Linked DNA regions of Homo sapiens. The protein of the gene in region 1 interacts with the protein of each later gene in a pairwise test. Each region holds a gene or a part of one and is shown on either strand. Other genes may lie near its edges. The genes, in order: MICALL2 and CDR2.

What was found.
Region 2: the proteins of MICALL2 (region 1) and CDR2 interact in binary tests that used the Homo sapiens proteins (3 or more experiments, as listed by UniProt).

What each region holds. Positions count from the first base shown.
Region 1 is NC_000007.14:1,438,731-1,442,546, forward strand, and holds part of MICALL2 (MICAL-like protein 2), read right to left. Parts: intron 3,755-3,816; coding exon 3,462-3,754; exon of another isoform or gene 2,433-3,461; coding exon of another isoform or gene 1,955-2,432; coding exon 1,861-1,954; intron 1,356-1,860; coding exon 1,195-1,355; intron 266-1,194; coding exon 110-265; exon of another isoform or gene 1-109. UniProt on the Homo sapiens protein: Effector of small Rab GTPases which is involved in junctional complexes assembly through the regulation of cell adhesion molecules transport to the plasma membrane and actin cytoskeleton reorganization.
Region 2 is NC_000016.10:22,364,580-22,368,395, forward strand, and holds part of CDR2 (cerebellar degeneration-related protein 2), read right to left. Parts: intron 436-3,816; coding exon 323-435; intron 1-322.

The DNA.
Region 1 (3,816 bases):
ATTCTAGGTCCTGTGAATGCATCCTCCAAAGCCCCAGCAGGCATTGCCTCCTCAGAGGAAGGCTCCCTTCACGTACACCCCAAACAGCAGCGGTGTCTCTGGGGCTGACCTGGTTTGCCCTGAAGGTGAGGTTTCTTCTCCTCCTCCTTCCAGCTCTGCACTCGGGCTTCCTGGCCAGGGGGCTCCGGCCGAAGCCAGTTGTCACAAACGTCGAGGCTGGCAGGGACGGCCAGTCTCCTGCGGCGGGGTGGGGAGGGGGACCTGGCTGCCCCCAGGTGGGGAGACAGAGCCACGCTTCAGAGCAGGGCCACTGGGAGCCTGGGGTCTGTCCCAGCACAGCCAACAGCTCGCTGGGTAGCCCGGCCATCCCCATGCCCTGGGCCTCCCGACTGGCACAGGGTTGGCATCACAAGCCCTACACCCACGTCCTGCCCAACCTGGCCATGTCTCCCCAGGGGGCTAACCCACGGGGCTGCTGGCTGCTCAAGGTCACACAGGAAGTGGCACGAGAGCTGGATATGGATCCAGGGCAGCTATGAGTGCTAGGAATACACACAGAGATGTGTGTGCACACACACGCATCACACACGAACACGGGTGCACACGTGGACACACATGCATCACATTCATGAAACAGATCCACACATGGGTACATGCACCACATACATGAACACGGTTGCACACACATGCATCACACAGATGTACACATGGACACACATGCATCGCACATGAACACAGATGTACACATGGACACATGCATCACGTGTGGGCACACATGCATCACATACACGAACACAGACACATGGACACGCATCACACATGTACACATGCATCACACGCATGAACACTGATGTACACATGAATACACATGCATCACACATCACATACATGAACAGACACATGGACATGCATCACGTGCACATGCATCACACACATGAACACAGATGTACACATGCGCACACATGCATCACGCATGGATACAGGCATCACATACATGAACACATGCACACATGCATCACACACATGCACACATGTACACACAAGCCTGCCCAGGACTACCAGCTTCTCTGGCTGACCGGAGCGCCTCTCCGCACACCCCAGGAGGTGGCACTACAGGTCCAGTCCCGGGGCCCCCACCCAAGGGGGAGGGCCAGCTAGGCAACCCGGGGGCCCCTGGGTCCCGTCCAGGAGTACCTGGGAGGCTGGGTCCTGGGCTGGCTGGGCGTGGGGTCCTGTCAGGCCTCACGGGGGTCAGGGTGATGTGGACACTCCCAGCAAAGCTGCCTGAGACCTTCCTGGGGGCCTCCCCCGCCCTCGGCTCTGCCAGGGCCCGTGGTTCCTTGGGCTTCAGAGTCCTGGGCAGAAGGCATGAGGTCGGAACCCGAACCACCAGCCCCAGGGCCTGGCCCACCTGGAGGGGCTCCCAGGCCATATGCAGACCAGCCGGAGGGAGCAGGTGGCCTTCTGAGCAAATGCCACCTCCCAGCCCACTGACTACACCTGCTGGGACCCTCCTGCAAACACACGTGTCCATCGCTACCTGCCGTGGTGCGAAGCAGATTCCAGGCGTGAGCTCCGGGCCCCACGGGACCCACACATGGGGAGACTCCACCCCAGCTGCAGGCATGGTGCGTGAACCCACACGGGTGCTGCCATGCCCAGGTGAGACACGCAACGCTGCCCCCAAACCAGGGACAGCGGCCCCCATGTCCCTCAGGCAGGGGTGACCTGGCCTCTGCTACTCACAGGGAGGTGCGTCTATCCCTGGATAGGCGTGTCAATCGGTCGATTACATACTCACTGCATTTATTAAGCACCTATGGTGTACCAGGCCCTGGGCCAGCCCCACCCATCCCTAACCTCTCAGCTGGGCTTCTCCTGTCCACGGGCTTCAGATTCGCTCTCCATCCTGCCGGCCCGTCCTCCTGGCCTTCCTGGAGGCTGGTGCTCATGTCTGGGTGGGAGGCAAGGGGTCTGGGTGTGAGGAAGGAGTGCTGGGAATGGGGTGTCTGCAAGGGTGGCTGTGCCTCCCCCTGCCATCTTCCCATAGCCACTCCACCCTCAGACACCCCCACAGCCAGCCGGCCGGGGGGCATCAGGAGCACCGGGCAGGGAGTCAGGGGAGGGGCTCCCAGCTGGCTCTCCTGTGCTGTGTGTCCCTGGGGGAAGCTCTCCCTGCCTCTGGGCCTCAACTTCCCCTTCTGCCGAATGGGTGGGGACGTGGCAGGGTGAGCCCCGTGGACCCTGATCCTCTGTCCACCTGTGCAAGGGGAACACCTGAGCCACGGCTGCCCGTCTGCAGGCTTTCTTGGCTCCTGGGTCCTGCAGGATCCAGCGCGTGGCTTTAACAATGAGAACTCAGCCAAAGAGAAGGATCTGGAAAAACCCTTTGCAGCCCAGCTTGTTCCCTGAGCCCAGCTCGATAAAGCCATGGGAACCTCTAGCTTTTTTCTACACACACCCAGGTGGCAGGGACAGCCAGTTTCCTGCAGTGGGGCGAGGCGGGGGGACTCGGCTGCCCCCAGGTTGGGAGACAGAGCCGTGCATCAAAGCAGGGCCGCCAGGAGCCTGGGGTCTGTCCTGGCACAGCTGACAGCTCACTGCGTAGCCTGGCCATCCCAGTGCCCTGGGCCTCCCAGCTGGCACAGGGTTGGCCTCACAAGCCCTAAGCCCACGTCCTGCCCAGCCTGGCCATGATCACCCAGGGGGCTAACCCCTGGTGGGTGACAGCCAGTTGCCTAGAAGAAAGCTCGCTCCCTGTTCCCGAAAACACGTGAGGCCATAAAACAGGACTGTGTGGTCCAGGGAGCCCCCAGGAAGAGCTCCCAGCCTAGGAGGCACCAGAGCCCTCAGGTCATAGGGCATCGTCACCAGACCACCACCGGGGGGGACGGAGCACAGGGCGCTCTCACCTGGACACCACCAGGGGGACAGGGCATACTGGGACACCAGCGGAGGGGACGGGGCATAGGGCACCGTCACCGGGACACCACAGGGGGGACGGGGCATAGGGCACCATCTCCGGTATGTGGTGACACAGGGTGCCACAGCAACAGCGCGACGTTGTCAAAGCGACAGGCAGGAAGCGCAAAACACCACGGGAGAACAGGAGGCCCCACAGACCACGGCCAAGCCAGGCCACTGCTAGCCACAGGATGTAACTGCCAGACCGAGCTGAGCGGGACGCTGCAGGGCTGGGCTGCAGGCACCTGCAGGACGTGCGGATGGGGTGGGCTGGGTGCCGGCAAACAGCATAGCCCTGAGGACATTTGCAGCCACCACACAGAGAGCGCACCAGGACCCCAGGAGGCTGCGAGCAGGTGTCACGGAGGACAGAGATGAGACGGAGAGGAAGGCGGGCGGGGCTGATGATGAAACCGCACACACTGCAGAGTGCGGCCAGGGGAGAGTCCCAGAGCTGCGGGCCCCCGGGGCCTCCTGCCTCCCAGCCCCTTACTCACCCTGCGTTAAGGTGGTGCTTTTACCCTTTGCCATCGGGGCCTCTGGCTTCGGCCTGGAGCCAGCACCCACCCTGCCGACCCCTGAGGATTCCGCCAAGTTCCTCCTGCCTGCCGGGGGCAACGCGGATGCCTGAGAGGTACTGCTCGTGCTCAGCGGGGCTGGCGGTTCCATCCTCGAAGGGAGGCCAAGCACCCGGGGAGACGAGGACTGTAACGGCTTGGCTAAGGGACTTGCTTGTGGTGCTTCAGTTTTGGGCTGAGAACTGGGAACAGCGGCAGTGGCTGGGGAGGGCCTATAAGTAAAAGCGCAGGCATCAGGCACAGCTGGATCCAGGCGCCCTCCCACCATCACCCG
Region 2 (3,816 bases), on another chromosome or scaffold:
AGGCCGGGTGTGGTGGCCCATGCCTGTAATCCCAGCACTTTGGGAGGCCAAGGCAGGTGGATCATCTGAGGACAGGAGTTCGAGACCAGCCTGGCTAACACAGTGAAACCCCATCTCTACCAAAAATACAAAAATTAGCCAGGCGTGGTGGCAGGCGCCTGTAATCCCAGCTACTCGGGAGGCGGTTCTCATTCTCAAAAAAGTTTGTGTTAAAAAATAAAATGCTGCATCTAATTGCAAGTGCTTTTTTACCAGTATGTGATTGGCATAACAGCAACACATCGAAGTGTCAAAAGTGTAACTCTCCTGCCAAGTGAATTACCTCAATTTCCTGTAACTGCTCCTGATTGGTTGTATACATCTGCTGAACAGAGTCCTCCAACTCTGTGTTCCGATCCAGTAATGTCTTCCCAAGCTCAGCAGCAAGTTGAAGATCTAGCACAACAAATGAATCTTAGAATAATACAAATGATCTCACATCAACAATTTATATAACCCAGTCCTTCAAAAAAGAACATGTAGTTTAAGTCACATCCCAATGGAAGGTGGAGTGGCACAGAAGGAAACCCGAGTTCTACTTAAAATTCAGTTAAACTGACGCCTCCAGCAGGTAATGTATTCTCTTATGTACCCATACTTGTAAGAAGTGAAAAATGGTCATCTACTTTATGGAGATGCAGTTATTTGTTCAGGAATGATCATTCCGCAGTGTTACTTCTAAAATCCTATTTGCTAGTACAATGAATGTATTCATATCCTGACAGTCTACTTTTTTGAATGGACCCTTGAGCCAAGGTATAGGTGGAGCTTTCAAAAATCTTTAAAGTTCCCATGAATTTGCCTGCTGTGAATACAACTGTTAAAGTTTATTGTCATATATCCTGGACTCCTAAGGGGACTAAAATTTATTAAGTCAAGAAAAGGAAAAATACATCAGCATTAAGAACACTGCCCCAGGTCACTCTACTTCTCTTCGTGTCCTTCTGTAAGATGAGCAACTAGAAAAGCAAAACAGAAATGTGGTTTTTGAGGTAATTACATGTCAGTAGCTCATACTTCCATTTAGCACAGAACCATATTTTATTTTAAACCTCATTTTTCAACTCTCTCTATTCTTAGGTATAATGCCCATAAAACAGGATTTGTTTATATTATACTCAACTCCCAGAAATGAAAATTTAGTTAACAATATAAGAAAGGACACTAGTTGTAACATACGTCATTGAAATACTTCTTTGCATAGTAAATCTTATGGAGCAGTCCTTTGATACAGTGGGAAATGCACTGCACTCTGGGCAGGTAAGTCTCAGGCCCAGTTCTATCATTTACCAGAACACTTTCAATATGGTGACTTTAAGGCCCCTATAGTTAGTATTCTTGTTTAGAGAGATGACTGTCTTATCAATATAAGATTGTGAAAATCAAATGAAATAATACATAAAGGAGTACTTTACAAACTAAGTTGCAATACGCACGCAAAGTACTATTAATAGTCATTGATTCACAAATGAATGTTTTTGTTGCCAGGCACTATGCTAAGCATTAGCTATAGAACAGTGAATAAAATGAAGTCCTGCTTTGCTGACATTCCCAGATTAGTGGAGGAAGCCAGACAAATGAGTAACTAAACTCACATACTGTGATAAACAGTATTCATGCATGCATGCATATACTCAATAATATCAGACACTATTCTAGGCACTGGGATGGTGCCCAGGAGCCATAAGGAACTCACATTAAAAAAATATCCCTGCCCTCATGGAGCTTATATTCTACTGGGAGAAACAGCACAATAAAACTTGATAGCGATAAATGCTAAAGAGAAAAAAATAAAGCAAGGAAGAAGTACAGGAGGAGTGTGGATGTGGGAGGCTGAAATTTAAGAACATGTGACCAGGGCCACATTAGAATCAATGTGTGAAGGAACAGAATAAGTGACCCATGTGTATCCATCAGGGAAACAGCACTCCAGGCAGAGGCAAGGCAAGTGCAAAGCACCTGGGAGGAAGCATGACTGAGTCATTAAGGAGGCTGAGGAGGGTGGAGCAGAATGTATTGGGCAGGGAGGGGAGGGGGAAGACTCAAATCAGAGGGGCTCCAAGATGGCCAGTTTGCGGAGGGCCTAACTAAAGAGGTCAAGAGTTTGGCCTTTACTCCAAATGAAGGAATCCAATGGAGGTTTAACAGGATCACTCCGGCTGCTGTTATACAGGGTGAATGGGACAAAGGTGGGAGCAGAGTGACAGAAAGATACTGCAATCGTCTGGGTGAGAGATGATGGTGGCTTGGACCAGGGTGGCAGAGATGAAGATGGGAGAGGAGGGGCAGAATTCTGACATGTTTTGAAAGTAAAGCTAAAGGATTTGTTGACCAATTCAATATAAAGTCTAAAAGATAAAGCGGGGGAGAAAAACCTGGATTTGGTGATAATGAACAAAGGGCTTTCTTTTTCTGTCTCTTTATTAGGCACGGTCTCGCTCTGTTGCCATGCTGGAGTGCAGTGGTGCACTCATGGCTGACTGTAGCCTTGGATTCCTGGGCTCAAGTGATCTTCCTGCCTCAGCCTGCCAAACAGCTGGGACTACAGGCATGCACTACCAAACCCAGCTTACTTACTTACTGATTTATTGTAGAGACAGGGTCTTACAATGCTGCCCAGGATGATCTCAAACTTCTGGCCTCAACACATCCTCCCACATCAGCCTCCCAAAATGTTGGGATTACAGGCATGAGCCACTGTGCCCAGCCTAGGGCCCAATTTAGAAAGGGAGGTCATAAGGAAGGTCTGACAAGACCTTTTAGCTGAAGCTTGAAGGATGAAGAACTTGCCATGAATTTGGCATATTCTACAACCTGACAAGCAGCCAGTATGATAGAAGCATGAGGGATCAGATCATATAGGATTTTATAGCCCATGGTAGGTAAAGTTTAAATTTTATTCTAGGTATGATGGAAAGTAGCCTCAGTTATTGTCATAAAAGTATTATGAAAAAAATTTATCATAAAAACAAGGAAACTCACTACATAATGATTTTTAAACTTAATTTTTAGAGGTTGACAAATAAGGCTTAATGGCTATCCACCACTACTCATAGTAAAACTTAGCATTGAGTAAATGGTAACAACAGCATTAGTTGTTGTAATGTCCACTCAAGTGCATAATTAGTATTCTACTTGGTTAGTTTTCACTCTGGAAAAAGCAGCAAAACCTACCACACCCAACTCCAGATCATTTAAAAACATTTTACACCCATTTAAAATAAAACAGTATACTGTTGGTAGATAGGTGCTAAAATACATTCTCTTGTGATTTCAAAACTAACAATGTCTATTAGTCATTACATTCATTAAGACTTTAGAGGCCAGGTGCAGTGGGTCATGCCTATAATCCCAGCATTTTGGGAGGGTGAACCAGATGGACTGCTTGAGCTCAGAAGTTCGAGACCAGCCAGGGCAACATGGTGAAATTACATCTCTACCAAAAATACAGTGAGGCCCTGTCTCAAAAATAAAAAAATAAAAAATAAAGACTTCCATTAAATCTATGAAATAACTTGTATTTACAAAACACAGAACTTTTACAAATAGCTCAAAGCATTTAAGAGACATTAGTCTTTTTCTTGTCATTATTTATTTATTTTTTTTGAGATGGAGTCTCTCACTCTTGTCACCCAGGCTGGAGGGCAGTGGTGCGATCTCGGCTCACTGCAACCTCTGCCTCCTGGATTCAAGTGATTCTCCTGCCTCAGCCTCCTGAGTAGCTGGGATTACAGGCACCCACCACCACACCTGGCTAATTTTTGTATTGTTAGTAGA